3 separate regions of the Homo sapiens genome follow, and regions 1 and 2 are each linked to region 3. Evidence: fine-mapped QTL for protein levels in blood plasma. A gene starts in region 3. Each other region holds a variant in brackets. All regions are shown on one strand. Distances are between the middles of the regions.

Region 1 (8,189 bases), 37 kb after region 3:
CTAATTTAACCTTCAGGAAACTGTTGATTGTGTTTCCTAACATTATGATTTCCAAGACGAAGAGTGTACCTTTGGGACCATCTGTCCTTTTCATAACCCTCCCATGGCTGTGTGCATGATGAAGCTGCCTCCAATCATTAGTATTGCAGAGAGCAAGGAATTCTACCAAGAATAATTTGGTTTGCCCAGACAAAAATATCAATCGTTCTTCAGAGGTATATCGATGAATACAAATGCTTAAAAATGTCTTTTAAAATCTCTGTTAATAATTGCTACTAGTGTTAAATAATAATGAATGAAAATTCTAGGTAGCAACATTTTCATCTAGTGCAAATAAAGAGAACCCCTTGATTATTTCTGAGTAGATTAACACTGCATGTGTGTGTAAAGAATCATGCATTACTTTGACAGAATTGATTTTTTTCAGGATTTCTCTTATGTCCTTTTTTTCTGGGGAAATAATTTAATGTTTTGGCAAAAAAATTGTGGAGTTTGTAAGTTCATTTGTACATTGAAGCCTGTGCTTTTTCATATAATCATTGAAGTTTAACTCTATATTTTTAATATTTGTGTTGCTGCTCCAAGATGTTCTCTGGAATATATTTATATTCTTTAAATTGTCTTAATTATTTATTTCTTAAATTCCGAAAGGAAGGAGTTCTGGCTTAGGGAAAACATCTAATTGGAAATGCTTTTTTCTTTGCCCTAACATGTCCAAATTTTAAAGACTGTATTTCTTTTCCTTTTCTGGTTTAGCCAAAGGAAAGAATCAGAATCCTTTTAATAAGATTATCAGGCAAGACTATGAGCTTAAACATTCCCAGTAATTCCAAAGTGAAATTTCCCTTTTTCCAGGTCCCTCTGGGGTTTTGATTTCTGATTGCCCTGGAACTTGGAAGAAGTTATTCTAGCTCTTGCTCTTTTTCCTAGTTGTCTTGCCAAACTCTGCAAATGTAATTCTTACTTTCTCACAAATCAGACCAAGGGACATTGTCCTCACTTCTTTCTGGATGGCTTTTTTTCCCCCTTGCCCTTTGACATACTTCTGAGTTCCTCTGAACTCCAGAACATGGGCTATTTTAAATCAAGTCCATGACACACTGTCAGTTCCCATATTCATGTTTTTTTACTTAAGTAAGCGTATTGCCTTTATTTTAAAATAACCCTTACCACAGAAATAGTAATCCAGAGTATAACACAATTATGTCATAGCTGCAGAAATATCTGGAACATAAAACTTCAGTGAACATATCTTTTTAAAAGTACATTATTTATATTAATTGTTAGATACTTGTCTAATAATATGATTTGGAAGTGCAAATGAAAACATTTAAATATATAGAAGAAGGTATATGATAATTTTACACATAGTACTTAGGCTTTACTTTTTGATATTTTTAAGTTAATTTTTCCAAAATGTTATTTTTCTTTCATGAAGTATAAAGTATATTGTTGTTTATAAATGTACTACTTTTTACTCTTCCCCTAGATTCCTTCAATTACTCAGATTTTATAATGACATCAAGAAAATAATTTTAAAAATCATGGAATTATGCTGCTGTTATTGACCTCCAATGAATTTTCTTTATTTTATGGATGAGAACATAGGGTCCCAGTATGTTATATGGCTTGTTCAAAGTCACATGGATACTGAGTCAACCAGCTTCAAAACAGAGTTAACTTTTTATGTTCTCTTCCATACTGAAAACTTATTTTCTTGGTGTCTTTCTATTTTTCCTAAATTATAGTCTGATGTATACTTTATTGGCAGTTATAATATTCACCCTCTATACTGGACACATTCAAGCATCTACTTAGATTTTCTCGTTGTTGTTTCTTGGGCCTTCAGCTATTTCCTCTGCCCTGGTCTCCACAGCAGCCAAGACGGTAAATCATAAATAATACTGCATTCCTAAAAGGATTGTATTGGCATCACCACCAAAGATTTTAAGAATGCAGAGACTGTGGTCCTTATCCTATTCTTATTCCATTTACCTGTCTAGCCCCTGACAAAAACTAAATAGATCATGGCAGATGGTGACAAACTACCATCAACTTAACCAGATGAACTCGCCAATCTAAGCTGATGTGCCAGATGTGATACCTTTACTAGAGTGCCAAGCACATTCGGAGAGCCAGGTGAGCAGGCACTCTTGGGTGGGCCTCTTATGCAGGTAGCAGGATCTCTAGGACAAGGCACACTTGGGACTTGACCAGGAGTCTGATTAACAACATGAGGCCAGCCACTGGGGTAAGACAGTGGCTTTCACCCTGGATCTATTACACAAAATAGGCACCGGGTCCCCAAAACAAGAAGAAAGCCCAATTACCAGAACTGGGACATTAATGCCTTGGAGCCTGGGCTGCAAGATCAGAGGGCGAGATGAGGCTGTCTCTGAGCAAGGACTCAGTGAAACTTGGGCTTCCCCAGGACAGGGCTTGTTCCAGAAGTAGAGGCAAGGCTAAGACTCCAGAAAGGATGGAGTGGCCTCAGCCATGGCGGGGGGCACTCTGAGTGACCAGGGCATAAACAGGTCAAAATACCATGCACAGTTCCACCCTCTGTCCACTGACTTAACTTTTAAGGTCATTTTTTTCCTGTGTATTTCTTCACACATGAATTTTATTTCAATATCTATCTTCTAGTTTTCTTTGTGAGCCTCATTGTTGAAGAAGAAATTTTCAGACAGAAAAAAATAAACAACTTTTGGTACCTCCTTTTTGCTCTCTCTGCTAATAAAAATACTGCCCAAGAACCCCCTGCAGGTCATTTGCTAGTAGCAACAGCCATAACTTTTTACTTAACAACCCTTCTGAAAACTTGGCATCATTTTTTCATTCATGTATTTATATACCAATAATTTATTCATTCAACAAATGTTTACTAAGAGCCTACTGAATACAAAGTGCCTACTCTGAAGTCAGACAGACCTTTTGTCTAACATTAACTGGCTGTTTTTTATGGGTGGAACCTATTTCTTAACATGGCAGAAGGATTAAGTGGCATAATTCACATAACTCATAAAGCATAGAAGCTTGCCACAGTAATTAGCAATCATTGAATAGCTATTATTACTTTTACTCTTATTAATATTAATAAGTATTAATATTAATGTGAATAAACATTAGGATAAAATAATATTGAAACATGGTTGCAGTCGTTTGTGCAGAATAGACTTTAAAATAAATAAATATAATATAGAGTAATAGGAGCTATGGCACATGTATGTACAAGATTCGAAGAGAAAAGTAATTCTCCTCAGACAGGTCATAGATGCTTTCACATGATGAATCATGCTTTAGTTTAAGGTTGAAAGTTGAAGAGTCTCCCAGACAGTCACGGAAAGCATGTTGCAGGCAGAGGCATGTGTTCGTGCTATTTGAATCAGCACAGAATGTAAAGCTGGAAATGTACAAGAGGCCAAATGACAAACGGTCTGAAACCCTTTGCAGAGGAGTCTGGATTTGGTAGGGAAAAATTATTGTGTATGCTTAAAGAGTGTTAATTCCTGGAGAAACAAAAGTTACCTTTTACAAAAATAATTCTAGTAGCAATATGAAAGTTGGAGCTGAAATCAAATTGGGGAAAGGGAAAGATGCAAGCCAGGAAGACATTGCGGGTAAGGCTGGGGAGGAGCTGTTACAGCAGATGAGTTGGGGGGGGGGGGCGTGAATGTCTGCCTGGTTCTGTGCCTTTAAACAGCAAGATACACCAGGAAGAGCCCAGCCCTGTCCCCATAGTCGTCTTCCCCACCCTCATTCTCTCTCTGGCACTGGTGTGTCTAGACGCAAGTAGATGCCATGTTTGGAGGACTGCTTTGCAACTGGCCTTGGAGAGACAACAGCTGAGCCTCACAAATGTGTCATATTCTTTCACCCTGTGCCCATCTTTGGCCAAACCCTTAATGGAGCAGTGTTCCCTAAAGTGAAATACACTGGCCACCTGTTTCAAAAGCACCTGGACAACTTGTTAAAAATGCCTATTTCTAGACATCACCCAGCAATGAGAATCCCTTGGAGTTGGACATGAAATCTGCACTTTTTACAGTCTCTCAAGGGGAGACTGATGTTAAGAAGCCCTGCAAGAGGGCACTAGACAAGTCTTTCTGAAACAGAACTAATCATGTAACCGGCAAGGGTAACTTTTAAAAAATAGCCTTTAAGATCCCATCCCTTTAGAGATCTGGAGGCCTAGGGTCAAGCAGGGAGTCCTGACACAGCAAGAGCACACCTGGAGCTGGATACTTAGTCAGATTTAGGAACAATTGCCCAATGTTGTCATCCTGATAAATTACCCTTCTACTGCTTGAATGCATGAAATAATTAGTTCACAAACCTTTCCTGGTGTAATTACAAAGGGATAGCTGAGTTGTAATTTTATTGAATTGCTACAGAAAGATTTTGAAAAACAAAGAGGCTAAGATGAAAGGTCTTAATTAGCTGTAAGAAGGTCCATCTCACAATTTATTGCTATTAGGAGGTGGCCTTGAGGAGGAACAACTATAGATGGCCACAGCACTTATTAACTTTGTGCACTGCAAG[G/T]TGTGCATTACGGGGAACAGCACCTGACATGGGACGAAGAATTCCCTTTGATCTAATCACTTGCATCAGGCACTTTTCCAGCTCCTCTCTCATTTGCCTCAGAAGTCAAGGGGGAACTCCCTTTAACCATGTTATGCCTGTGTTTCCAGTTCAGAAAGCAAGGATCATCATTTTTCCATTGCTCACTTGCTAGGAAATGTGGAGTTCATTGAGCCTAAAAAGGATCTAACATAATCATGGACCTGCTTGGGAGGTAGGGGTAGGAGTTCGGGCAGAGGAAGAATTTTGGATGAAGCTGCTTACACAGATGAGAGTTATCAATTCCACGCTCATGTTTCCCAAACCTGGTGCCACATCAACCACTTAGCATAAAACCACAGCAACAAAACAGGTTGCTGGGCCTTGTGTACGGTATTAGAATCTAATGACTGCTATAGAGATTAAAATGAGATTAAGGAGTTGAGGTGGAAAATCCTGCAGAAACAGAGCATTATACCACTTAAAGTCTATCTGGCTCCACTGTTTATTTTTTCCTGGTTTCATGACTCCTCCATGATTGTGCCTATTCAAGCTCTTTGCTCAATAAGAAACTCTGTTGAATGTATTCAAGGGAGATTTTACTGGTTTGTGAGCTGGGATGATGAAGGGACGGTCTTGAAATATCTTTCAAATGAATAATGGTATCAGCCCAACGTTTTTGCTTTAATTCACCATGGTGGGACAGATAGGTAGGCTTCCAGCAAGAAATCTTTCAGAACTTGCAAGTAGGAAAGAGGATGATCATCATCTATAATGAAATGTGAGCCTTCCCATTCATTCCTCTTGTTTATACACGTTCATAGAAAGAGAATAGCACAAGAATATGACTGACTGATCCGTTCTACCTCCAATGAGAACAAGAGGAGAATTACCTTTGAAGCCCACACCTGCCAGTAATAGTGTTTCTCACCCATTTGGCTGGGAAATTCCAGGAGGATCTTCAAAAGACAAATGCCACTGCAAACTAGATGTACTTAGTCCAGAATTATTAGGGAAGGGCCAACTCCATCCAGAGAGTAGGAAAGACTTCCCTGAGAAAGTGTCACTGAGCTAAACGTAGAACGATGAATATATACAAGCTTGCCAGGTGGAGGAGGAGAGAAAGGACAATGTAGGGACTGACCAGAAGGAAAAGAAGTTTGAGAAGGCTGGCAAGGAGGCGGGGCAAGTGCATGGGCAGAAATAAGAAAAAAAAACCTAGTGCTGAAAGTGTGCGGGAGGGTGGAGATCAGGGCTTGAGGTGTCATTCTTTGGGGACAGGCGATCTTGTAGCTGTAGGTCATGCTAAGGAGTTTGTCCCTCAGCAACAGGGAAGTCATCACATATTGCCAGCGGGAAAATTTATTTAGAAATCTGGTTAAAGTTTTTTTGTTCTTGTTTGTTTGTTTTTTGAGATAAACTGTTGCTCTGTCACCCAGGCTCGAGTGCAGTGGTGGGATCTCAGCTCACTGCAACCTCCATCTCCCGGGTTCAAATAAGTCTCCTGCTTTAGCCTCCCTGAGTAGCTAGGACTACAGGCACCCACCACGAAGCCCAGCTAATTTTTGTATTTTTGTTGAGCGGGGATTTCACCATGTTGGCCAGGCCGGTCTCAAACTCCTGACCTCAGATGATCCGCCCTCCTGGGCCTCCCAAAGTGCCGGGATTACAGACGTGAGCTACTGTGCCTGGCCTGGTTAAAGTTTTAACAAGGTGATTTCTAGTTGCAGAGTGGTTTAGTTTAAGGAGCAACGGGCAATTGTGACTAGGAGACCAAATTAGAAGGCTACTGAAATCATCTTCAAAAAAAAAAGAAGAGAGAGAGAGAGCTTTGTGCAGTGGCAGAACATAGCCATTGAGGTTCATCTGAGGTGTAATTATTGCTAATAAAAAAAAAAATGAAGACAGGGAGAATTAGGATGGGGATGAAGCAGCACCAGAAGTTAAAGCAAGTTGACTACAGTCACACAGAGAGGCTTCTTGACTTGCAATCCTGTGATTTTTTTCATGCTCTCCTCTCTTTATTACTGCATCATAATTTGCTATCATTTGCTGTTTTTAAATAATATATGTCCTCTTATCTCCCACACCCACAGCAGTCTCCCTTCTCTGAAATACCACTGCCCTCATCACATTCTAACTTCCAACGTTTGTAAGCTAGTTTGAGATAGGATTTGCTTCCCTGCTTTAAATCCAGCTTTGGATGTAGCTGCCTATCTCTCTGCATAGGATCCAAAAAAACACATTAAGTGGGATGCTAAAGCAAAATACATTCTTCCTGGACTCAAATTTTTGCAGAACTTTTCAAATTCCTGGGCAATGATGGCAGGCCTCCATTTTTCAGCTGTGAAAGAAATTTTGAAAACTAGGAAAACAGGTAATGAATACCAGTGATGAGATAAATCAAATATTTGTCAATTTATCAGGATTATTCTTAACGTAGGAATATGGCACAGGATGTTCCCTGGTTATCTATAATATCAAAGCACCATTTTCCAAATGAGATTCCCACATTTGGTGACCATATGAGGGTCTTATAAAAACAATGGAAATCCCAGGCCCTAGCCCACCTACTGAGTCAGACTCCCGAGGGTTTTAGCTCGAAATCTACATGTTTAAAAATCTCTGTAGGTGATTCCTATGCAGTAAACTTATTTTTAAAAATCACTGGACTAAAGACTTAGTCACCGAATTTAACCTCTTCAGATGGTTTGTCCTTAAAATATATTTTTATCTGCAAAATGAGATAATAAAACCTTACTTCCTTAGAATCAAGAGGCTAGATCTGGTGATCTCTTTCTGTACCTCAAGGTTCTAAAATCTGCCATTCAAATATTTATTATCAATCATTACTGATGATTCATTACTGTTTCTGTGTTTACACCATCCCCTTCACCCAAATTCCCCTATAAAGTCTTTTCTCTCATGTAGGATCCATCCCCTCTGTGAAATTGTCCTCAAGTGAGTTTACTCTCTGAGTAAACTCTGCCTCTTCTCCAAATCTTGAGGCATTTTTGGTCCCAACACTGATTTTGCCCAATGCAGCAATTGCTTTGTGGTGACAATCTTTGTTAAGTCCCTGTTATGACTGCCATCGTGAGAGCAAGGACTGTCTTTGTTGATGACCATGATGTTGACCATACTAGGTAAACTATCATTGCAAACAATTTTGTGATCATTTTAATGTGCATAGTCAATCAATGTGAATCAGATCCTCTGAAAAGCCTAATATGCACAGACTTCAAGCTTAGTTTCTGATAGATTTAAACTCATAGGAGTTTGGCTTTCATTAGCTAAATGCAGTTTAATCTCCCATGTCTAGCTCTCTAGACTCTTTAATTAAAAAAAAATGTATACGCCAGGTGTAGTGGCTCATGCCTGTAATCCTAGCACTTTGGGAGGCCAAGGCAGGCAGATCACTTGAGGTCAGGAGTTCCAGACCAGCCTGGCCAACATGACGAAACCCTGTCTCTATTAAAAATACAAAAAAAAAAAAAAAATTTTAGCAGGGTGTGGTTGTGCATGCCTACAATCCCAGCTACTCAGGAGGCTGAGGAACAAGAATCGCTTGAACTCAGCAGGCAGAGGTCACAGTGAGCCAAGATCAGACGCTGAACTCCAGCCTGGGG
Region 2 (8,189 bases), 450 kb after region 3:
AACTAGAAAACTGGACTACATATGAAGCAGCAATTTTCAGATATTGATCAAGCAGTTGGCACAGTTCTGAAAGAAGGAAAACAAATAAGATAAGCCTACAGTCAGATAAGTCCCAGCTTTCTGCTTTCAGGCACTTTCTGGACTACAGTGCAGGGTTGGTTATCTCCATCAGAGCACAGTGGTATCATTGAATTAAGCAGACAGAGTCTAGTGTACAGGAAGACTGATGCATCTGGAATTTGTGAACAGAATAACAAAGAGGTTAAAGTTGCATGCAGAAAGAATGTCAAAAAATCTGTATAGGAATCCCGTAGAGTTTGTTGCTAAATACTAAGCTGTGCCTATGTAAAAGAAACTCCCTGAGGCCAGGCAAAAAAACTGCTGGAAAGCTGTAAGTTGAAAAGTTTCTAGAATTCGTACAGGGCCGGGAGACATTTGAGTTTTGGTCAGCTAGAATCAAGAGTCTTTTTGAACACCTGGCCTTTAGGGGAGATGTCAAAGGGGTTATACCTTAGTCATGTGCCTAAATTGTCTTTTTCAACTGAGGTTTTATGAAACATAATATGAATAAGTATTTTCTTAATTCTTTCAAGCTTGGTATAATACCATTCTAAATACATTAGAGAGAAATTAATTCATTATCTACAGCATTGCCTTAGACATTAGGGTTTAATTATCTTGTGGAACACCCATTGAGAGGGAGTATTTTAATACCCTCTCTTCAAAGCTTAAAAACAAGCTTCAAAAGGATCAACTAAATATACTGCCTATCAGACCAAAATCTAGACCCCAGCAATGTAAAATACACACTATCCATCACCTAATCAAAAATTACTAGACCCTAATATTCAGAATTTACAAAGAACTTAAATATATTTACAATAAAAAAAAACCCATCAAAAAGTGGGCAGAGGATATGAACAGACACTTCTCAAAGGAAGACATTTATATGGCCAAAAAACATATGAAAAAAAGCCCAACATCACTGATCATCAGAGAAATGCAAATCAAAACCATGCCAGTTAGAATGGTGATTATTAAAAAGTCAGGAAACAATAGATGCTGGCAAGGCTGTGGATAAATAGTAATGCTTTTAAACTGTTGGTGGGAATGTAAATTAGTTCAACCATCGTAGAAGATAGTATAGTGATTCGTCAAGGATCTAGAACCAGAAATACCATTTGACCCAGCAATCCCATTATTGGGTATATACCCAAAGGAATATAAATCATTCTACTATAAAGACACATGCATACGTATGTTTATTGCAGCACTATTTACAATAGCAAAGACATGGATCCAACCCAAATGCCCATCAATGATAGACTGAATAAACAAAATGTGGCACAAATATACCATGGAATACTGTGCAGCCACAAAAAGGAATGAGATCATGTCCTTTGCAGGGACATGGATGAAATTCAACAAAATTATGTTTTAGGGTAAAGATTTTGTTGTCCATAAGCCATTCTCTTGGAAGGAATTTATGAAGGAAGCCATCTAGAGAGATATGTGGCTTCCTATCTTTGTAGTTATCTGTTTAGAAACAAAAAGGAAGGTAGATTTTGTGTGACTCTGTTCCCAAGCTGAACTTCCCTTTGATATAGTGAGTTTGGTGTCCCAAAATTTTATTTTCCTTTCACAGTCTCAGTGAACTTTTGGGACAATATCAAGTAGTCTATCAAATGTGTATTTTCAGTCCCAGAGAAGGGAAAAGCAGAATAAAAATTATTTAAAGTCCAAGACAATTTACATCTCTCACTATGCATTTAATGATCTAGCTTTTGCCTGTCTTTCAAGTTTCAAATCTAAACCATTTCCTGACATTCCGTTTTCTCTTCAGTTCACTACATGACTCAGTTTATCGCACATACCATGCTATTTCTTATCTCTATATCTCTGTTCATTCTACAGTCTGTGCCTAGAATGCTTCTAACTCTCATCCTATGCAACCTAATTCCTACTTTTAAGTTCCAACCCATGTGTCATCTCCAAGGAACCTTTCTTTATACTTTCCATTCATTTTCCACCCAACAAGAGATAGTTGTACTCTTTGGTGCTTCCAGAAATACTTTTGCATATCTCTAGTGCTGCATTAAGCCATTATATTGCTGAGATCTGTTTTTCAGTCTTTTTTGTTTAATGCTAGAAGGACTATGTGTAATACATGTTTGTATCTCCAGCACTTAGTAGAAGGATTGGCATAAGATTATTTAAAGAATAAATAAGTAATGACTTCATTGATCTGGCTCTGGGTCTAAGGTTGATACACATACCATTAACAATAATAAAATACCATTAACAATAATAAAAATCAAATTTCCCTTAAATCTCATTCATTATGGCTTATATATTTGAAAATAAAAATATATTATAAATAATGAGTCTACATTTAAAATCTGAATATTATATTTTGGTAACTTATTTGTCATATGTATGTATATGGTAGAAATACATGTATTTTTCACTGCACAAAGCTTCAGTAAATAAGTCCAGGAATCCAGATGAGGAATTATGGAATCTATAATTCAAACACTTTCAAATTTTAATATGTCCAAAGAACCTTTGGGAGACTAATTAAAATGTAGTTTACCTTGCCTGATATCCAGAAATTCTGATTCAGTAAATCTAGACAACAGCTTAGAAATTTGCATTAAATAGTAACTACTCAGGAGATTCTGTTGTAAACGATATATAATGTCTGGTAGATACAAATATTTATGATCTATTGATAAAAAATTGATTCTTTAAGTTGTAGTTAGAGAAATGTCATTTAACAGTATATCCTACATTTTCACTTTACTAGATAAGAAAAAATTGAGGTTTAAAAGACCAACATTTACAAAAACTCTCTTCTGAAATAACATACGTTAACTACATTAATTTTAAAGTTCTGAATACATTTCACACTTCAGCAGTTAATGGAGACTGGTATGAACGTTTTCATAGACACAGGAAGAAAAAGCAAGCAGAATAATTCTCTTTATTATATTTTAAAATTTGTTTTCTAAAGAAGAAAACATTGTCTTTAAAATTTTTGTTTGATTTGGAGCACTAGATTCCTGGAGGAACAAATTGTCATTGAAGGCTCATGAATAAAAGGCTGAAGGGAGACTGCTGTAATCTATGTGCTCAGCAGTCGCTACAGTTAAGAGCAAGATTTCCCACCTGATTGCTCCATTCTAAATATTGTATTAACTCAGTTACTTAAGGGTATTTTAGAAAACAAGTTAATGGGCAATCTTGTCATATTATATTATATGCAGCAATCATGCTGCGTTGAATGGCCATATAAAAGAGAAACTTTAGAAAAATTGAGCCAAATTAGAGAATAAGAGAGTTAAAGAGTTGTTTTTACACACAAAGTTACAAGCCATGAAATGTCTTATAGAATATTACATTTGGCCTATGTAATTTTGGCAAACAATTTACTGATGGAATCTCAAAAGTGTATTATTTTGGATAAAAATTTGAATTTAATTCATTCTTTTTGATTATACTAAGTTTCTCACATCATAGTTTACATTGCATATTCACGAGTTCTCTGAGAAAGCCACTTATCTACTTTTCCACCAATCCATCTATTTATAAATTTAATATTTAAATGTATTCATGTTAGAAATGCAAAATGCTTGTTTCTTGGTGCTGCAAAGAAATAGCACTCGAACATAAATTTAATTCTCTCAGCAAGGCAATTTTTACTTCTATAGAAGGGTGCGACTTGTGAATGGAGTAATGGCAAGAGCATACCTGGACAGGGGAGGGGAAAGAGTTCTTATTCCTGATGCAGGTAGCCCCTACTGCTGTGTTGTTCCCCTATTGGCTACGGTTGGATGGCACAGTCTAAGCTAATTCTGATTGGCTATTTTAAAGAGGTCAGGGGTATGAGCCAGAGTGGTGGGGTGAGTAGTTTGGTGGGAAGGACGTTTAGGAACAGGTAACTAGAGGTGACTTAGGTCAGAGCAGGTGACCAGGAGTGACTTAGGTCAAAGCAGCTGATCAGGATGAGTCAGGATGGAGCAGGTGACCAGGGAACAGATGTGAACTACTAATTAGGACTGGTGGGAAAGTTGTTTACTGAAATTAGAAGCAAGGGAGCGAACAGAACCAGGAAGTTAAACTTTAAAATGGAGAATAAAAGAATAACAGAGCTGAACATATGAAGAGTAACTTGGGGTTCATTATATTTAACATTCACAAAACTTGGAAATGAAATTCTCCAAGAAGATGGTATTTCAATTCTAAAGGGTCCTAAAACCCATATCTCAATATAGACCAGGTGTGGTAGAATCTTGAGTCATTTTCAGTCAGGTCGATTCTACTCTCTATTCCTCAAAAGGCCAGATAATTCCTTTCTTGGATCAGACTACTGAGGGTCTCATTGGATATCTGATTCATGGGTCAGCAGATATGGAATATGTAATTGCCACCATAAAAATTATAGAAAAGAGGAAAACAAATGTCAATTTGAACATAAAAATGAATATTAATGGCCCATTGAAACCAATATAATATTGAACCACATGATTCCATCACCCCCATTTTCCATGCAAATCTCTATGTCA[A/G]TCTTTTTTGATTCATGTAGGTTTTCATATTCCTTTTCTTTTTTTAATACTTTATTCATTATGGGAATTGATTTAAATTTATTTTTATTAAAATATGCTTAATAAAAATTTAAATCACTTATAAGTAAACTCTTTTTTAAACTTTTAATTTTTAGTTTTAGATTCAAGGAGTACATATTTATGATTGTTACATGGGTACATTGCCTACTAGTGGGGACTGGCCTTCTAGTGTACCCATTACTCAAATAGTGGGCATTGTAACCCGCAGGTAAGTTTTCAATCCTCACCCTTACTCCCACCCTCCTTCCTTTTGGAGTCCCCGGTGTCTATTATTTCCACGTTTATGTCCATGACTTACAAGTAAACTCTTAAAATATGTTCACCCTGAAGGAAAGTAGAGTATCTCACCCCAAAATATACTTTTTTGGCATATTTTGAGATGGATATTCAGAGGGGCTACAGACAAAGGAATAGTTCTGAAGAGTTGTCCTTTTGTGGAGGAGATTTACATCTGTAGAGGAAATCTACATTAGCGAAGTAAACAGTAGATGCGAACAGGATTTCTCTGAGACCTTATCTACATTATCTTGATCTAGGAAAGATTAACTTAGGAAAAAGAGACACTTTTGAAGTTCTAACAGAGAAACTTTCACTATAGGCTATTATCTAATCTGAGAGCTGCTACCTGAGAGATTTCATTTGCATAACAAGATACTTTTTGCTTGATATGCAATTCCTCCCCTCTCCCTCCCATAACTGATCTCCATGTTCCAAGCCTCTATTCCTTTCCATATGGTATTAAAACTTCAGTACTCTCAAAGAAATGTGAGATTTCTTTGAGTCTCATACTTTTGTGTGTGGTCCCCATGCCTATGCATACAATGAGTTTTGTTTTTCTCCTGATAATCTATTGTGCCAACCTAAAATAATCAAAAGAGTCAGAATCTAATTTAAAGAGAGTTTATTCAAGTGCAGAATTTAAGGATAGCCTTCTTGGAAATACCAACTTCTAAGGGATGGAATTAGAATTCAGAAGTAGGAAAGTTTAGGTTTCATTTAGATAGGCAGAGGGAGATGAGTTTTAGCAGGATTACAACATTTTACATACAAGGCTAGAGCATAATTACAGCAATGTGATTGGTTACAGATGGTTTTTCTTTTGGGGAAGGGTATATTTAACACTTTTTACGGAAGGCATAATAGTCATGGGTTTTCTGTCATCTGGTCTAAGCAAAGCAGGACAACAAATGAGAAATTAATCTGTAACAAGGGTCACTAAAAGGCAGAGGTTTGTGTCCCTGATATCATTTAATTCTGTCTAGTCACTGTGAAGAAAAAGATAAATAAGAAAGTGAGTTAATTTATAATCTGAGAAATAGAAGTTGTAACCATATGTGACTCAGATCACAGTCACATCTTTCTTAAGGCTTAAAGTGTTTTGGGGGTTCCAACAGCTTTTAAATTGTGTTTATTTTCAAAATTGTCAAATAATTTCAGCAGACTTAGACTCAAATTTTCAGAGGCAAAGTTTCAACTTCCCTAAAACCCTTAGTTTTGCCTTTCCCATGCACTGGTTAATTGTGGTTTATGCCTAACTACCTCCTGTATCAATCTTGAGTTTTAGAGAATGTTTCCAGAAGGGATTAAGGCACCTTTGAATTCTATTTAGTACTGGTCCAACAGATCGTTAATTACCCTTTCCTTATTTTTCTTTGTAGGACCAATAATCATCCTTTTCTTTTGATGCCTGGTTTATATATTTGAGCTCAGCTCTAGTAAAATCTACCTGCCACTCTTACTCTTTTATGCATAAATCTTTGTTTTGAGCTGTGTAGCAGCTTGCTTAAACATGGTGGCTTTGGAATCAGACTGCCTTGGTTTAAATCCCTATCCTATCACTTGCTAGGTATGAACAATTTAGATATCCTTTCTAAGTATTGGTTTAAAAATCTATAAAATGAGGATTCTTTGAGGTTTAATTGAGATAGTAGAGGCAAAATACCTGGCACATAATAAATATTCAATACATGTAATTCATAGTTGATATCATTGCTATTATTATGGTAGGTAACTAGTCATAAATAAGCAGGGCAAGAGAGGCTCCCCATCCCACCAGAAATGTCAGGCAACCATCAGGTGATGGTCAGGTAGTTGTTAAACTGCCTCTCTAAAATAATAATTGGTCACAGCCAGTGCCAGGGAAAGGCAGTCTCCCAATAAACAGAAAAACCTGAAACTGATGATCAGCAGTGCCAGGCCTCTGAGCCCAAGCCTCCACGTATACATCCAGATGGCCTGAAGAAAGTGAAGAATCACAAAAGACATGAAAATGGCTGGTTCCTGCCTTAACTGATGACATTACCTTGTGAAATTCCTTCTCTCCTTGTCTCTACCCTCTCTTTTCTCTCCACTTTCCTGGGGGGCAAGCACCCCCCACCACTTCTCTCCATGTCTCTACCCTTTCTTTTCTCTGGGCTTGCCTCCTTCACTATGGGCAAACTTCCACCCTCCATTCCTCCCTCTTCTCCCTTAGCCTGTGTTCTCAAAACTTAAAACCTCTTCAACTCACACCTGACCTAAACCTAAATGCCTTATTTTCTTCTGAAATGCCTCTTGACCCCAATACAAACCCAACAATAGTTCCAAATAGCCAGAAAATGGCACTTTTGATTTTTCCATCCTACAAGATCTAGATAATTCTTGTTGTAAAATGGGCAAATGGTCTGAGGTGTCTGACGTCCAGGCATTCTTTTACACATCGGTCCCTCCCTAGTCTCTGTTCCCAATGCGTTTCGTCCCAAATCCTCCTTCTTTCCCTCCTGCCTGTGCCCTCAGTCCCAACCCCAAGCATTGCTGAGTCTTTTCAATCTTCCTTTTCTACCGATCCATCTGACCTCTCCCCTCATCCCCAGACTGCTCCTCAGGTCACTCCCCACCAGGCTGAATCAGACTCCAATTCTTCCTCAGATTCTGCTCCTCCACCCTGTAATCCTTCTATCACCTCCTCTCCCCACACCCAGTCTGGCTTACAGTTTTGTTCCACAACTAGCCCTCCCCCACCTGCCCAACAATTTCCTCTTAAAGAGGTGGCTAGAGCTGAAGGCATAGCCAAGGTTAATGCTCCATTTTCTTTATTTGACCTCTCCCAAATCAGTTAGTGTTTAGGCTCTTTTTCATCAAATATGAAAAACCCAGCCTGGTTCATGGCCCGTTTGGCAGCAATCCTGAGATGCTTTACAGCCCTAGACCCAGAAGGGCCAGAAGTCCATCTTATTCTCAATATGCATTTTGTTACCCAGTCAGCTCCTGACATAAAAAAAAAAAAGCTCCAAAAATTAGATTCCAGCCCTCAAACCCCACCACAGGACTTAATTAACCTTGCCTTCAAGGTGTACAATAATAGAGACAGCCAAGTAGCAATGTATTTCTGAGTTGCAATTCCTTGCTTCCACTGTGAGAGAAACTCCAGCCACATCTCCAGCACACAAGAACTTCAAAACGCCTAAGCCACAGTGGTCAGGGCTTCCTTCAGGACCTCCTCCCCCTGGATCTTAATTCAAGTGCCAGAAATCTGGCCACTGGGCCAAGGAATGCCCCCAGCCCAGGATTCCTCCTAAGCCATGT
Region 3 (8,169 bases):
TTGTCTCTTTGCCAAGCCATTTTTGGACGTGAATCATTGAGCCATTCTCTAATGTTATGGTGCTCTATAAATGCATAAAGAAATCAGAAGTAGCAACTCACTACCTTCTAACCTACATGAGACCACATATCTACTTTTTAATTTCTATTTTGAAATTCTTTTCTTAAAATCCTCACTTTTGTTGTCATGATGTAGTACTATCAAACTAGAAGTCTCAAGAGATTATTCAATTAGTGCTCTTTCCTAGGCAAACAATGCATAAGCTATTTGTGTTTAGTTGTTTCTTTCTATGTGCTCTTTCATATGACAAAGAGATAAGAAAAAATGAAATGAAAACAATTTGAATCTTTTAGCCCTATTGTTAACCATCAAAATAATTAGCAAAAGGATTAACTTTAGAGATGTGCGACTATTAACAGAACAAGCCCAGACAGACTTGGTGATAAATCAAATTACAGTAAACCATGCCTAACCACCTTCTAACTTTTTCCTGATTGTTGAACACCAGGAAGAATTAGTTCTGACCTTTACTTTCCGGTTGTCTGCTGTAGTTTCATCAAATTCTTCCCCCAGCTTGAAGGAGATCTTAGTGTCCTGGAAAGAACTTTCTGTTCTTATGGTCATCATTTTCCCATCAACACTAATAGTTACTGTCGGTTTCACTAACCCTGCCATGTTCCGGGCTGCGAAATTCACTCCTACAAGACAGAGATAGCCTTGGACCTTATTAAGACATTGTTAACAATCACTCTGGAAGTCAATTTTCAAAGAATGCTTACTTTACCTATTTTGAAATTTTGGATAATGTATAGTAACTTATTTTATGTTTTCTGTGATATCAGGGCTGAGCTAGATCCTCCCAGTCATAAGGTATATATGTGACATTTTGAAAAGCTAAATTCACTCTCTGAGACTATTACACTTCCTCTAAAATGTAAATTTGTATGGTGCCTTTCAAGAGATCAAATGCTTGCACTTCACCTTGTGGAGTGTTACGATAACCTTGTGGGTGCGGGAGGAGTTTGACTTAGAGCCTGGCCCTGTGGTTTGGTTGGGAATTTCCCATTGTCAAACTTGACTCCTGCAGTTGGTGGGCAGAAGAGCTGACTCCTTCTCTGTCCTGATATCAAACTCCATTTCACATTTAGATTGTGGAACTGATATGACACATCTTACTGTAGAGAAGCAGTGTTAGACATCTGCATCACAAAGAAGAGTGAGATGGTTAAAACCCAGGCTCTAACTTGGCCACTTGCTAGCTTGGGCATATTATTTACCTCTCCTAACCTTCAGTTTTCTCAATAGTAAAGTGTGGATAACTGTATACTTGACCTCGCAAGTTTTTTTTTTGTTTGTTTGTTTGTTTGTTTTTTGTTTTGAGACAGAGTCTCGCTATGTTGCCCAGGCTGGAGTGCAGTGGCACAATCTCAGCTCACTGCAACCTCTGCCTCCCAAGTTCAAGCGATTCTCCTGCCTCAGCCCCCCGAGTAGCTGGGATTACAGGCACATGCCACCATGCCCAGCTAATTTTTGTATTTTTAGTAGAGATGGGGTTTCACCATGTTGGCCAGGCTGATCTCGAACTCCTGACCTCAGGTGATCCACCTGCCTTGGCCTCCCAAAGTGCTGGGATTGGAGGCCTGAGCCACTGTACCCAGCCAGCGGATGTTTTAAAAGGTTAAATGAAAGGGGTTAGCATGGTACTGGCACATAGAAACTGCTCAGCTGTTATTCTTGCTTGTATTATGCCTAAACCCAGCTCCCAGTCAACACAAGTGCTACTCTGGCCATAAGGCCCAAGTTTTTTATATACCCCCCCAATTTTTATTCAAAACAAGTGAGTCTATAAATCTATGAAGAGACAGAAAAACTTGTTTCTTATGACCCTCTGAGAAAGTGAATATTGACTACATCAGAGGAACAAATATTACATTTATAAGCACATTGACTTATTATGGGGATAAGGCATTGTTATTTCATTGTCTAGAATGAGTAAACATAATTAATAATTGTAAGCATCCATTAAGCATGTTATGTAAGTTAAAAAAAAGTAAAGATAAGAAAGTCCTTGGCTTTGTATACAGTTTACTACAAGGGAGGTTTCTCTTAATTAAATATGAAAAATATGAAATAATTGCTGTTCTTCCATTAGTAAAGAACAGTTTAGCTATTATACACCCAAGTCATTATAATTAATGTGTAACTAAATGACTTGAGTTAGAGATTAAAGGATTGGTAGGGTTTATAATTCTGAGGAATATCCAGTGGTGAGACATTCAATGAGTAAAAATGTTGTGTTTCTTCAGATTTGTAATTCTTCAAAACCATGTTTATAAAATATCTCTCACATTTATGAGAACTCTAAAAATTAACCAACTAGAAATTTTGTTAGTTGATACTGCTGTTTTAAAGCTATAACTTAAACCTTGAAACAAATTTAATTGATCAATTTAATTGTAGGTAGTGATTACTGTCTATAAATTTGAAGCTGGGAAAAATGTTATTAAATGAAATGACCAAGCTAAAATGAAATTCTATCTAGAAGTTAGGTGAAGTATTTTCAAAAAGGATAAATGGGCTTAAATATATGGATCATGACTGGACAGAGGTGTCTGTGGGCCTAGTCTTCCAAAAAGAGACAATTATTACTAGTAATTTAAAAAAGCAAAAGTAGAAGCATACATTGTGTTAGTCTATATACCCTAGGATCACAAAAGGAAGATAATTGTAGGAAAATTCATGGTAAAGTACAAACCCAATCACATCACAAAATGCTTTGCCAATTTCCAAATTTGTAATGGTATTTCTCACCCAGTTCTTTCATGTAATCCTCAAAGTTTTCACTGGAGACCAGCTTCCAGGTTCCCAAGAAGGGCTCAACCATCATGGAACACTTGCTGAGAAGAGCCACTCGTAATTGAAAACCAAAGAAATATAGGCATTACGGTGCTGCCAGTAGTTTAATTTAAAGAGCGTCTTCATCACGTGACTCTTCTGAAATGGCCAATGGGCAACAGCAGCAAGACTAAAGATTCTAGGCACCAGCATTTGACTCATTTTATTTACCTCCAAATTAAGAGACAGAAAATTAGCATGTAAAATTAAATTCTGGTCAATGATTTTAGCTTCTAGCAAAAAGATTTACACCCAAGTCACCTGACAAATATTACTTGTGGAACGGAGACAATCTTCAATAGACATCAGCTTTTTGAACAATGAATACTGAGTCAACCCTGGAGGAATATCCTGACAAATTGATAAACACCTGGCTGAGATGTTTTCCTACCTAAGACAAGAAATCCTTGCTTGGTCCACCTCAGCTGTTTTTTGTTTGGGTAAGTCACAGTGCTCAAACATCCTCTTCATTAAAATAATATCTTCCCTTCCCTTCCTTACAGGGTTGATGGGTTGATATTAGTTAATGTAACTAAAATGCCTATAATTGCTTGGAGGGAAATGGAGGGTATTATTAATATATTATCATTGTTGTTAATCGAAGGTAATTGAGGACAGGAAAGAAAGGTGACAATTATCATTGGATAATAGTATATGATTTAAGCTCTGAAAAGGAAGCAGAGCGAATGCCTACAAAATTCGTCTTTCAGGCTTACAAAGTAAACTCTACATTAAAAGATATTTTAAATTATAAGAAAAAATTTTGGCAAGTTTCATATAGAAAAAGATGTTTGGAATCTGCATTCTAAAAGAAAGACAAAGGCAGCAAATGGTTTCAATCTCTGTGCCATTACTTCTGAAACCATCTTCTGCAACCCCAATAATGGAAGTGGACTTTGCAGGTACTGAGTTTAGTAAGAAGGAGTAGATTCAGTAGCTGTTGATTTACATTACGGTTTTGAACTCCAGTTAACTTTAGAAGATGTTGGAAAGTTAGTGTCAGGGACCAGAAGAAGAATATTTATATTTTTACCTGCTTTGTATGAAGTATTTATTTAATTCAGAAAATATTGTTTGTGAACAAAATAAACAGGAGGTTGATATTTTGGTACTGTAAAACAATAACTTAAGTGGAATAAAGGATGGCTTTTGATGAAAACATATAAAGAAGAAACATATAATGTGATATCTTTATGGGTGGGACAATTATTAAATTATCTACAGTGCAAAACAGGGTAAGTGAAAATCCTGGAGTTAATTTCAGGAAACTAAGACCCAAGCTCAAAATAAGTGCCTCAGCAGTTGAAAGTGCATTCAGAGGTGATGTTCAAATATAGAGCAAGTTGTTAAACGTTTGCTTAACTGGTTCGAGATGTGTATGCACTCTCTGCTTTAAAGAAAGCAAGCATACATTGCTATGCCTGTTGGCCAGCTGGGTAGTGTAGCAAAGGTCTCCCATCAGCATAATCTTCCTTGTTGTTTTGATTCTCCTGTCATAGAATGATATTCCTGTGGTCCGTTTAGAACTCAGTTGGCCCATGAGACAAAAGCTAACATCAGATTTCTGGTTTCAATTATCCTCAGCAAACTAACGCAGGAAGAGAAAAACACCTCATGTTCTCACTTATAAGTGGGAGCTGAACAGTAAGAACACATGGACACAAGGAGGAGAACAATGCACACTGGAGCCTGTTGGGGCCAGGGCTATGGGGGGAGGGAGAGCATCAGGATAAATAGCTAATGCATGTGGGGCTTAATACCTACGTGATGGGTTGATAGGTGCAGCAAACCACCATGGCACACATTTACTTATATAACAAACCTGTACGTTCTGCACATGTATCCCAGAACTTAAAATAAAATAAAATAAAAATTCTGGCTTCTGTAAAATTCCCCACCCCTAGGAGAGAACCAAAGGGAGAGACAGTCTCTCTTTTGCCTCTACACATTTTTCTATCTCACGTGATATTTACAAGTGCTGCATCCATTGTGTTACCTCCTCAAAGATGGGGCCAGAACTGAGGATAGCAGAGCAGAAACGTGGAAGGAACTGAAGGCCACTTTATTTCAAAAATTTATATTATGTTAGTTAATAAATTCCATTCTTATTTAAACAGTTTTGTCTCTGAGCTTTTGTTACTTGTAGAAGAAGTCTTCATAATTACTACGCCTTTGTAAATAGCTTCACCAAATGGTGAATTTGGACCTTCACAACAACCAGTTGCATGAATCACATAGAGCTGGCCTCATGACAGCAGAGACCCATCTTCCTGAACCAACTCAAACATCTCTTTCCCTGTGACACTGGTTCAGAGCTAGATAATCCCCATGGCGTGAAGATAGAAATAAATGTTTAAGAGAAGTATATTAGCTTATTTCATAGTACTGCAAAGAGCTATTTCCCAGCTGTCTCCTGAGCTATTCTATGAGTATATCAAAAAAAGAAAATATTTTCCACTCACTTCTGTATCCTTAAGACAGTATCTGGCATATCATAAGTGTTCAATAAATGTTTTATGGATGAGTGACCAAAGAAATAAGTAGTATTTTTTTTAACTGGTAATTCTCATTAGTGTTCTTTATCTCTCTAACAGTGACTAAAGACAGAGTTTTAGTACATTATCTTCTCCTGACCTGGTCCTATGACAGGCCTTTTATTCTGGTCATTATCAGATGGTGGAGGGATGCTCAGACTCTCTTCATCTTTCTCAGTTATATAGCACAAGTCTCCCTTCTCAACTAAGAAAGTTCTCTGCTATTTCTGTTGCTACCACCGCTAGCCTTTGGCACTTTGGTTTGATTATATAAAAAAAGTGAACACCATTTCCTCAAGTAGAAAAAAAATTTTTAATCAGATTGTTCCTAATGTTAATCCTAGTAAAGGAACTAGAATACTGTAGTTTGTTATAGAATAGTTACATGTCTTGTTCTTATGACAGTTTCAAGGCTCATTTCTCCAATATGTCATTTTTCTATGAACTTTCAGCATCTCATTTTCTATATTGATTTTCTTGTGACATTTTAAGACATCAAGTAGTTTTGAATAATTTTTAATTTTGAGATGCTATGGTTGCCACTGATGATGGATACTGGTAAAGTTAAACATATACTGGAAGCTACACAAGTATTCAGAAATATGTCTGATAATTTATTGTTGCACATATAGTACTTTAGCTGGATTTGATAAAGCATCTAAGATTCTTATTTCCACATGCAGTGACACCTCTAAGTATCATATTCCTTACTGTGTTCATCATTCAATTTCAATTTTAAAGATGCAATAATATAATGACTTTTCAAAGTGTACATTTAATCTAGGACTCTGAAAAGTAATTATTTAAAATTTTTCTTTTTAAGACGATATTATATTATCCAATAAGGAAAACAAGTATTTTGAAATTAACTTTGGTTAATAGTCTGAATGTGATATTTGTCATTGAAATAGTCTTCCATTTGCTAGTATTTTCTACACTAGAGGAATTGATGTTATAATTTCAAGAGACTATTTGCTTAACATAAAAGATATATTTTTTTAAAACATCACTTTTTCCAATAATTTTTTTATATATGGGGCTTATAAGAGAATTTTTACATTGTTTTTACTTCTGGATCACTTCACTTATAATAAAAATTTTACTTAAAACAACCATACCAAATTAACTCTGAGCAAGTAATTGTTTTAATATGACAACTTCCAGTTTATTTTTACTAGTTACAAAATAAGTCCATCTCTTATCTATTATTTACTGCTTAATAGGTATATATAAAAATAGCAATTTCTTTCTTTTGTTTTTGGTGAAGGTTATTTATTTGAAGTGCTCACTATTTAAGAGCATATGGAGGCGGCTGACCACCTTGAAAATTCACCTGTAGTAGGACTGTTCCTTTTTTTTTTTATTTTTAATTTTACGTTAAGTTCTGGGATACATGTGCAGAATGTGCAGGTTTGTTACATATGTATACATGTACCATGGTGGTTTGCTGCACCTATCAACTGTCATCTAGGTTTTAAGCCCTGAATGCATTAGGTATTTGTCCTGATGCTCTCCCTCCCGTTGGCCCCCACCCCCTGACAGGCCTCAGTGTGTGATGTTCCCCTCCCTGTGTCCATGTGTTCTCATTGTTCAACTCCCACTTATGAGTGAGAACACGTGGTGTTAGGTTTTCTGTTCCTGTGTTAGTTTGCTGAGAATGATGGCTTCCAGCTTCATCCATGTCCTTGCAAAGGACATGAACTCATTCTTTTTTAAGGCTGCATAGTATTCCATGGTGTATATGTGCCACATTTTCTTTATCCAGTCTATGATTGATGGGCATTTGGGTTAGTCCAAGTCTTCGCTAAAAAATAGCAATTTCTTTCTAAGGAGTTATGCATATCATATTTATTAACATGTAAAGAATTTTTAGGCAAATTCATTTTTTGGCAATTGATATTTTCTCTTGTTTCATGCCACCTTCTTCCCCTAACTTTATTCTATTTGGTTGAGGTTTTTTTTGGTTACCTTTTAAATTTGAAATAATTACAAAAACACTTCCCGAACAACACAGAAAACTCCCATATATACTCTTTGCCCAGATTTCACAATTGTCAACATTCCAACACTTTTGTCCCTACCTCTCTCTATCTCTCTCCCTCCCTCCCTCCCTCTCTCTCTTCATAAGAAGCAAGCTGTTTGTTGCTCAGTCATTGAGAGTAAGTTGAGAAATGTTGCCCCACTCCTCTCCAAACAAGGATCTCAATCAGGAAATCAACACTGATGGCAATACTGCTATCTAATCCACAGACCCCACTCAAACCTTACCAATTGTCCTGACAGTTTTTCCTTTTCCTACTAAAAAAAAGGGAAAAAACCCAGCCTTTCTGACCCAGAATCCTGTCCGTGATCATGCGTTGCTTTCAGCCATCATGTCTCTTTAGTCTCCTTCAATCAGGAACAGATCTTTAGTCATTCCTCATCTTTTAGTACTGGAGACACTGGGGAAAAAAATCACTGTTCTAAGCAAGAGGCTGGGTCATCTGCTGAAAACTGACAAGTAATTTTTACATGAAAACTGAGGTCAGTAATGCTTCAGACTTTGAAAGGAGTATATCTAAATCAGAAATTGTAGCCCTTTGATGGCTAGAGTGGGAATTAGGGAAGAGGGGATAGCCAGCTCATTACTTAACCTGATCCTGTGTTTCTAAAGAGGGAGTGACTGGCTTTTTGGACTATTCATATCTGCTTCAAGATATAGGTGGACTCTATGACCACACTGTGGGTTTTGGAGAGGTAC

Alleles and levels. Alleles are on the strand shown, and positions count from the first base shown. The strength of an association depends on the size of the effect and on how common the allele is.
For the plasma level of the protein whose gene starts at base 2,940 in region 3, T is the low allele of the variant in region 1 and G is the other (moderate association).
For the plasma level of the protein whose gene starts at base 2,940 in region 3, A is the high allele of the variant in region 2 and G is the other (weak association).

What was found. PIP is the chance, under the fine-mapping model, that this variant and not a neighbour inherited with it causes the effect. The UK Biobank Pharma Proteomics Project read protein levels with antibody pairs (Olink). The fine-mapping took linkage between variants from a reference panel, not from the people measured, so its PIPs are less certain.
Region 1: its variant is fine-mapped to the plasma level of the FABP9 protein (UK Biobank, PIP above 0.99).
Region 2: its variant is fine-mapped to the plasma level of the FABP9 protein (UK Biobank, PIP 0.96).

The regions. Positions count from the first base shown.
Region 1 is chr8:81,495,914-81,504,102 of GRCh38, forward strand. All of the region lies in intron 1 of LOC101927118 (a long non-coding RNA gene), which reads left to right. Among named protein-coding and RNA genes, the nearest start is that of FABP4, 17 kb to the left of the region's middle. The variant G/T (reference allele first, on the strand shown) is at 4,543.
Region 2 is chr8:81,907,596-81,915,784 of GRCh38, forward strand. The region is part of intron 7 of LINC02235 (long intergenic non-protein coding RNA 2235); the gene reads left to right. Among named protein-coding and RNA genes, the nearest start is that of LINC02235, 69 kb to the left of the region's middle. The variant A/G (reference allele first, on the strand shown) is at 4,566.
Region 3 is chr8:81,458,640-81,466,808 of GRCh38, forward strand. It overlaps FABP9 (fatty acid binding protein 9), which reads right to left and starts at 2,940. Exons shown (of 4, transcript NM_001080526.2): 1 at 2,812-2,940; 2 at 526-698; 3 at 1-64. The coding sequence starts at 2,884. It overlaps LOC101927118 (a long non-coding RNA gene), which reads left to right and starts at 2,819. Exons shown (of 9, transcript XR_001745980.2): 1 at 2,819-3,335.